Homo sapiens: one gene and its partner. The protein of the gene in region 2 interacts with the protein of the main gene of each other region in a biochemical or structural test. Each region holds a gene or a part of one and is shown on either strand. Other genes may lie near its edges. The genes, in order: SLIT2 and GPC1.

Region 1 (3,903 bases), on a different chromosome or scaffold from region 2:
CCTCTGGCAGAGCAGGAGCTCCTTGGGCAACTTTAGGTCCTGAGGATGAATCCGCCTGGCCAGGGCTGCAAGGAGACCCCAAGAGCAGCGGAGAGGAGATCACGCGTCTTCTGTCTCCCAAGGATGAACTTGGCGGTAAAAGAGCTGGGGCTTCCAACGGCTGCTAAGATGCAGGGGCCGGTTGTTGTGGGGAGGGCGGTCCTCTGATCCCACGCACGCTTCTGCAAATCCGATGCCAGTGGCGAAGGTACAAGACAGAAGAGGGGATCTCAATAGGTATTATGGCCCCGATCAAAGTGGGCTCCGGAAGCTAGAAGGCGCGGAAGCCCAGCGGGCCCGTAGCAGAGCGCGCGGGGCAACTGGGCATGGCGCGCGGGGGTGCACGGGGCGGACGCGCAGTTCTGGGGGCGCACGGCTCTGGACTCTGCTCACTCACGCGGCCTCTCCCTCGCCCTCGACTCCGCCGCAGCCTGGACCGGTCCTCGCGGTCTCCCGACAGCCAACGATGGTTTACAAACACACATGCACTTCGCTGAAGGATGTCTGGGCAATCCCGCCTCCCGCTCGGCGTCCTTGGCGACGCTCTGCACCAGGACCTGCCCCGAGGTCACGCAGAAAAGACAAAAGGGCAGTCGGGCCGCCGCAGCCGGGCAGAAATATCCACTAGTCAGCACTCCGGCGAGGAACTCCAAGAGGCCAAGTGGAGGATGAGAGCTGCTGCGAAGACTGAGTGGGGACTGACTGGGGGCGGACTTAAAAACCAGGCAGACCGGAAGGAGTGGAAAGGCAAAGGCCAAGGTTGGAGGTGTCAGCGTCCTGCTGGGGCGTACTGGAGAATGGCTCGGTGGCAGGTGGGCGGGTGGGATCCACTACTCCAGGCAGAGCCAGGCGGCAGCTGAATGGCAGTAGTGTGTGCGCGCGTGTCAACCCCGCTCGTCTCCCAGATAAGCCGCAGCTCCGCGGCAGACACCTGATGGCAAAGGTAGAAGAAACAAGAGCCGGGTTCCGGAGGGCGCAGAGCCACGGCCGGCCCCCGGCGGTCTCCCACTAGTGGTTCGTCCTTCTCAAAGTGCAGCAACTTTTCCCAGGCTTTGAATTCCGTCCCCCAAGGCCACAGTGGCGGTACCCCTGCCGGCGTGGCGACGCCGCCCGGCTCCTGGCGCTGCACCTGACGCGGCGGCCGCAGTCCCGGGTAGTCCTTCTCCTTCTAGCCCCTTCCCCTCTCCCGCTGCTTTCCTGGCCTCCCGCTCCAGGGAGCGAGGTCGGGGAGAGGGAGGGCGACGACTCAGAGCGGGGACTCGGTGGCTCTGCCGACTCCGGAGCCCCTGGCAAGTGTCTAAACAATAGGACGGACGCAGCAGCCCAAGTCTCGCTTGTCTGGAAGGAAGGTGGGTTGTTGTCGTAACTGGAGTTGTTCGCTGGGGCTGACTGGCGCTCAGCGTAGCCAAACAAAAACCCGGCCCGCGCCTCCGGAGCCGGCTGCGGGCCCCCGGCGCTCCCCTTTCTGCTCAGCACTCCCGCCGTGCCCAGAAAGCGCGGCAGCTTCGGCCTGCGCCTGGGCGCTTCGGCGCTCCCATGCCTCGCAGCTGCCTCCGCCTCCGCCGCCGCCGCCGCCGCCGCCTTCTTTTTTTTAACCACAGTCTGCGGCAGCCACCACCACCGCCGCCGCCAAGCTCCGCCGTCCGGGCGCTTCCCAAATAAATAACACCAAGTCCGAAGTTGAGCCGGCGCGGGCCTTATATAGCCGCCCGAGCCTCCGCCCCCTGACCCCGCCCCTCGAGGCCCAGGCCCGCCCCCTGGCTCCGCTCTGGGAGCCCGCACCTCGCTGGGGAGAGGGGAGAGGTGAGGCCGGGGCTGCCAGCGCTGGGCGGAGGCGGCGGCTGGCGGCGCGCGTTCCCGTGCGCCCTGGCTCGCCCCCTCGCTCCCACGCGCGGGCAAACTTGGCCCGAAGAAGGAGCCACCCGAGCCCCAGCCCCCAACTCCTTGGCCCCAGAGGTGACCTGGGCTCGGAGATAGTCGTTTGCAGTGGGAGAATGGGAAGAGGTCGGCTTTGAACGCGGCTCATAAATAAACAGCCCTGCCAGTGCCTCTCCTGCAGCTTTTGCCACGCGATCCTTAAGGGGGCTGCTCACTCTTTGCAGCGCAGCAAGAGACAGAGAGACAGAAACAGAGAAATTATGATTTAAATTTAAGAAAAATCCTACCGAAATAGATCTGCCTGCGCTTACAGACACACACGTGTATTTTGGGGAGCTGAAAAGTTCAGTTTTTGCAAGTTGGAAAACAGCATTTTCCAACCTTCTTGCTTGCCTTTCTATCTCCAAGCCACCCCCTTCCGTTTAACCCTTCCTTTGTAGACACACACTGAACCACACCGTGGTCAGTTGATGTCTTGGATATTCAATAGGCTCACAAAACTCTTAAGGGCTTGAACGTATCTGTGTGATTTTTTACTCTCTTATGAGAGAAAGGAGGGGAAAAAATAAATCCCTAGCAACGCACATTATACCAGAAGGTTTTCTTTATTTCAGGGCAGTTCTGGATATTTTTTTCCCCGCTATGTTTTGAAAGAGAATTTCCTTGTTTCATCTTGTCTCTTTAGTGTGACGTATGTCTGGCAACGGCTGCCTCTCTCGCCCCCCTTTCCCCCCCAGCAAGAGCCAATGTCACTGTAAGTTTGAAATGACATCTAAATGACTCTGCTCCTTCTCTTGGATTTAATATGCATCATATTGTTGTTCTTCCTCCCATTTCCACGTTAAGAAGCTTTCCCTGGAATTTGTGCAAGCCCCCGCCTAATACCAGCCTCATATTGTAGTAGTTATTTGTATAATTATTAGAAGCTTCCTTGAAAGCAAGACCTGTCCAACTCTTTGTATTTCCAGCATCTATGCCTGCCACATAATAGGTTTCCTCATAAGTAACCGATTTCTTTAACTCAAGAGTATGCTCAACCTAAAATCTCTGCAATATCCTCATTAACGTTTTTCCTGGTTAACATTTTCTAAGATGTCCTTTCATAATGGCTACCCCTACTTACCTCATTTTGCCTGCCTTGGAAAACGTAAGCCTTTTCGAGGACACGCCCAAAGGCAGGGTACCATCTGATAACTGAATTGGAACTCTTAGGATTACTCATTTTAATGCCACAGATTTATATTGCTCTATTCTTTTAAAACCTTCAAAAACATTTGACATTTATTAACTCATTTGTCCTTCTAGATTTTAGCTTAAAGGTCTGTTATGTAACTTCCTTGAGGAGGAGAAAAAAGAAGCCCTTGTCACATTTTCTTGTAAGGAAAATGAGATAAAGAACAAGTACCTGTCATTGAGGAAGGAGCTCCCCCAACCCTCAGTGAATTTTCCTTAGTGTGTACCAGTAAATTATGTGGTTAAATATGGTTGCTGATACATTAATTTATTTAATTTCACAACTTTAATATCTTGTCAGCAACAAGAGGTGTTTGTGTTCAACTTTGTGCACCACATAGAATTGTTGTTCCATATTTTAATTCCAAGAACATATCCTGCATTCCAAATATTTATAAATAATATTATTGATATTGTTGCATAAGTGAAATTCACAGACATAAGTTCAAGTTTCATTCTATCTCTGATCACTTTCTGTTTTGTGTAAAACCAAGGAGAAACTAACATACATAGCAACATGCCTACAGAAACATCTTTTTAAAATTTGAAGCCAATTTAAATAAGAAGCTATGTTCAGTGGATTTCATTCAGAAAAAAGAAAGACTGTAATTAATTCTTGAGAGGCATATCTTACTATTTTTTGCGTTATTAACTTTTTAGTTGATAAGGGGAATTTTATACATACATAAACAACCAGGTCTCCTGTCCTTTAACATATTACTGTATTATTCCATTAGTATTACTGCAGGATGT
Region 2 (3,903 bases):
CGAAGCCCCAGGGTAGGGGGCTCTGGAGGGAAGTCAGGGGAGGCCTCTGCTCTGCCCCAGCTCGTGGTGGTCGCTGCCTGACTCGCAGGGCCTGCCAGCCCAGACGGCCCTCATTTTAATGATCTCGAGGGTCACAGGGAGGCAAGAATATCCTCACCCGCATGCCGCTGAGGAAACCAAGGCATGACTTGCCCAGGAGCCTGGAGGTGGGGGCAGTTCCCACCCAGGGCATGTGGGTCTGAGGCTGACGCCCTCCCTATGTCCCAGCTTAGCTGGGTCTGACACGTGCCCCGCAAGGGACCAAGGCATCCCCCTGGCCTGCGAGGCTCTGGGGCCCCACCCTGCCCGGCCCCCACGCATGTTGTTCTCTTCTGTCTCCTCTGCACTTTCACTCCACAGCCTGGCTCAGCGTCCAGCCCCAGCCCCTGGCCCTTCCCATCCTGGCCCATGATGGTTCTGGGCAGGGATGGGCCAGCCCAGAGCCGCCTGCCCAGAGCAAGGCTCACATCTGTGGGTACGCTGTTAGCAGGCCATGGGCAGCAGCCAATGCAGGAGGGACTGAGGCTGTGGGGCTGAGGTCAGAGGCTGGCCCAGAGGCCCAGGGGCACAGGGTTAAAGTAGGGGGAAGAGGAAGTCCCTTGGGCAGAGCATGGGGGTCTGGAGGGGTTTCTGAGAGCCCTGGGTGGCTGTGCGCACCTGAGCCACTTTCCGGACCACGTCGCTGGCCACGCCCAGGCCCTGCACAAAGGAGCGAGCAGCCACGAAGGCACGGGTGGCCCGCAGGCGCAGCTCTCTCGGGGCCTCCCCGAAGGGCCGCAGCGCCTCGGCCTGCTTGCCCAGGCAGTCCAGGTAGTCATCAGGCAGCAGCAGCTGGGGGTGCAGCTGCTTGAAGAGGCGCTCGAGCAGGCGGGCCCAGAACTCGGCCAGCGTCTCCTCCAGGTGCAGGTTGGCACCGCGGTAGTACAGGCGCAGCTCTGAGTACAGGTCCCGGAAGGCCCTCGCGTTCTGCGTGTACAGCTCTCCGAAGGCGCCGGGGAAGGTGGCCTGCAGCGTCCGCTCCGAGTCGTTCAGCAGGTGCTGGAAGTGGTCTGCGCACAGGGAGGGGGCGTGATCGGGACCATGTTTCCCCCGCCGTGGCAGCTGGACCAGAGCAGGGGACTCAGCCCGGGAGACTCAGCTCTGAGGATACACTCTGAGGACCTCGGAGTCGGACGCCACACTGCAGCGGCTGTGGGCCCTGTGGGCATCCATGGGGCGCCCCGAGACCTCACCCCCTGGCCTGGGGAGCAGGGGCCCAGGTGGCAGGGGGTCCTCTCGGGTCTCAGGGCCTCTGACTGGGGCTCCAGTGGCAGTTTCTGAGCTGAGCCCTGGGCAGAACAGATGCTCTGTGACTCAGTGACCCCCTGAGAACACCCAGGGAGGGGCTGCTGGTGGAGATGGGGACTCACTGGGGTAAGAGGGGCAGGGCCGGTCTGTGCCCCCCTGCCAGCCGCTCCTTCTCTCCACTGGTCCCCACTTGTGCTCCCCGTGGCCCCAGCCGCCTGCCCTGCGAGTCTCCAGGGCTGCTGCCCCTCCCGCCACCCTGTCTCGGCTGCTCTCCTAGGCTTCTTGTCTTCTCTCAGCTTCTGCGATTTAGAAGCTTCAGCTGTGAGCACCCCGGGCCTGTCTGAGGGCTCTGGGGGGCCTCCTGCAGCCTAGAACCCCAGACATCTCCCCTGCTGGGCAGGGGGTGTGGAGGCACAGGCTCACCCTCAGACCTCCACATGTGCTGCAGGGGCTTTAGGGAAAAGCCCCCGTACCCCGGGCCTAGATGGGACCCTGGACTTCCCCATCCCATTTGGAAGTGGGACTTCCAGGTCTGTAACTGCTCAGAGCGTCCCTAGGGCTGTGGCCGGCTTTGCCCCACAGGTACCGGGGGCTCGATGGCCCACCACAAGGTGCTCCAGGGTAGCAGGGCAGAGGCTCTCCTTTGAGGCACGGGGGCCGTCAAGCCTGAGATCTCTGGATCAGCCCCCACGCTGACCCCTGGCAAGGCCTGGGGCTTCAGGGCTGGCAGGGCTACAGAGAGCTCCCAGGCCGCTGTGGGGAGGGTGGACGGGCCACACAGCTGTCCAGTGTCCACCTTGGGTCCTGGCGCCTGGAACGCCCTGGCCTGTCCCGGAAAGGGGCGGCTTGTGGTTCATGCATTAGCCCAGACACACCTAGAGGGCCATGGGCCAAATCCAGGTGCAGTCCCCAGCTCTACCTCCTGCCAGAACCCATTCAGCTGCTCCTGAAGGCTGGTGGGGGGGCGGACACAGGGCTCCAAATCCCTGAACACAGCAACCAGAGGTCCAGCCAGGCTCCCCTCCTACCGCCTCCCACTGGTTCCCACCAGCACTGCAGACAAAGACCCAGGGGCCCTCAGCTGCCCCGGAGGCTGGGAGGGGACAGCAGCTGCCATGGGCAGGGGTGGGAGGGGAGGACATAGGAGGTGGGGGTTGGACAAGACTCCCTGGGGTAGGGGCACAGGTGGGCCTTGGGCACATCACATAGTGGGTCATTTTTAATACAAATGTCCCCAAAGGGTGTCTGTGTTTTCAGGTCAAAGATAGGAGAGTTGAACAGGAAGGCTGGAGGCTTCCAGAGGGCAGCAGAGGGAGGGCGGCGGCAGGGCACTGACACGGGACAGGCCCCAGAGCAGGGCAGCGACACCAACCCCCTAAGAGCCAGGAGGAAGCAGGCGGGCAGGATGTCCCCAGGCCAGGAGGATGGTGTGATGGGCAAGGGTATTAGCAGGAGAGGGGAAGGGGCAGGGCTGGGTGGCACGCTGGGGCGGGAGCCAGGGCTCAGCGGCGCTGGGGAGAAACTGAGGCCCAGGATAGAGTGGAGGAGGTGAGCCGGGTCCCTACACATGGGACAGAACCAAGTGGCTCAGGAAGGCTCCTGACTCAGGGTGCAGGGGCTCGCTCCCCGGGTCCAGCTGGGCAGGAGGAAGGAGAGTCCCAGAGGGGCCACGCGCATCCCACGGGCCCCACACCAGCGGGGAGGGCTGAGCTCTGAGCATCGATGTCCAAGTCACAGAGAGGGAGCTTCTGACCCACTGCTACCCAGGTGTACGCCAACAGCTGAGGTCCCACAGCCCTGTGGAAATGGCCTTGGGGGCTCCTGGGGACAGGCAGACTCTCCCGGGAGCCTGGGAGGCCACAGCAGGTGTCCAGGAGCCGGAGAAGCAGGAACGCTGAGACAAACCCCAGGGCCCCAGCAGCAGCTGCCGTCCCTCACAGCCACAATGGAGCCCTGCAGCCTCAGCGCTCCCTCCCTCCTGTCTGCCCAGGCTCACTGTCCCGGCGCCCTGGCTCCGCCCGGACACAGGGGCAGTACCTCAGCCCGGGCCGCCTCCCTCCACCAAGTCCTCGTGTTTCTGATCAGAGGTCACTTCATGGAGGACCTCCTGACCCCACACTGTCCCCCTGGGGGTGGCTGCCACTCTCTGCCCAGACACAAGGCGAGGCCCAGCCTGGGCCGAGGAGTACGTGGCTCTAATGCAGCAGCTGGCGGGGCCTCAAGGCCTGCAGGGGTCACTCCCCGCGGCCCCCAGACTCCTGCCCCGATATAAAGGGCTGAGTGGCGGCCACCCCAGGCAGGCCCTGCACTCTGCAGCCCTGTCCCCAGCCCCAGTCTCAGCCCTTGCACTGAGCTCCCTGGCTCCAGGCCACCTGGTCCCCAGGGGCAGTGGCCTGGGGCACTTGACGAGCTGCAGGCAGGATTTGGCCAAGGCCTGTCTCCCTGCAGGTGCTCAGGAGAATCTGCTGGTGACAGGAGCCTCTGAGGGGCTGATGGGATAGGCCCTCTGTCCCCAAATGTGCACTGGGAATGGGCTGTGCACACTCCCAGGGGGGTGTCAAACCCTGCAGATCCCTG

What was found.
Region 1: the proteins of GPC1 (region 2) and SLIT2 form a complex in vitro, tested with the Homo sapiens proteins (one study listed by BioGRID).

What each region holds. Positions count from the first base shown.
Region 1 is NC_000004.12:20,249,715-20,253,617, reverse strand, and holds the start of SLIT2 (slit homolog 2 protein isoform 1 precursor), read right to left. Parts: upstream 1,714-3,903; 5' UTR 1-1,713. UniProt on the Homo sapiens protein: Thought to act as molecular guidance cue in cellular migration, and function appears to be mediated by interaction with roundabout homolog receptors.
Region 2 is NC_000002.12:240,459,376-240,463,278, reverse strand, and holds part of GPC1 (glypican-1 precursor), read right to left. Parts: intron 1,089-3,903; coding exon 697-1,088; intron 1-696. UniProt on the Homo sapiens protein: Cell surface proteoglycan that bears heparan sulfate. Binds, via the heparan sulfate side chains, alpha-4 (V) collagen and participates in Schwann cell myelination.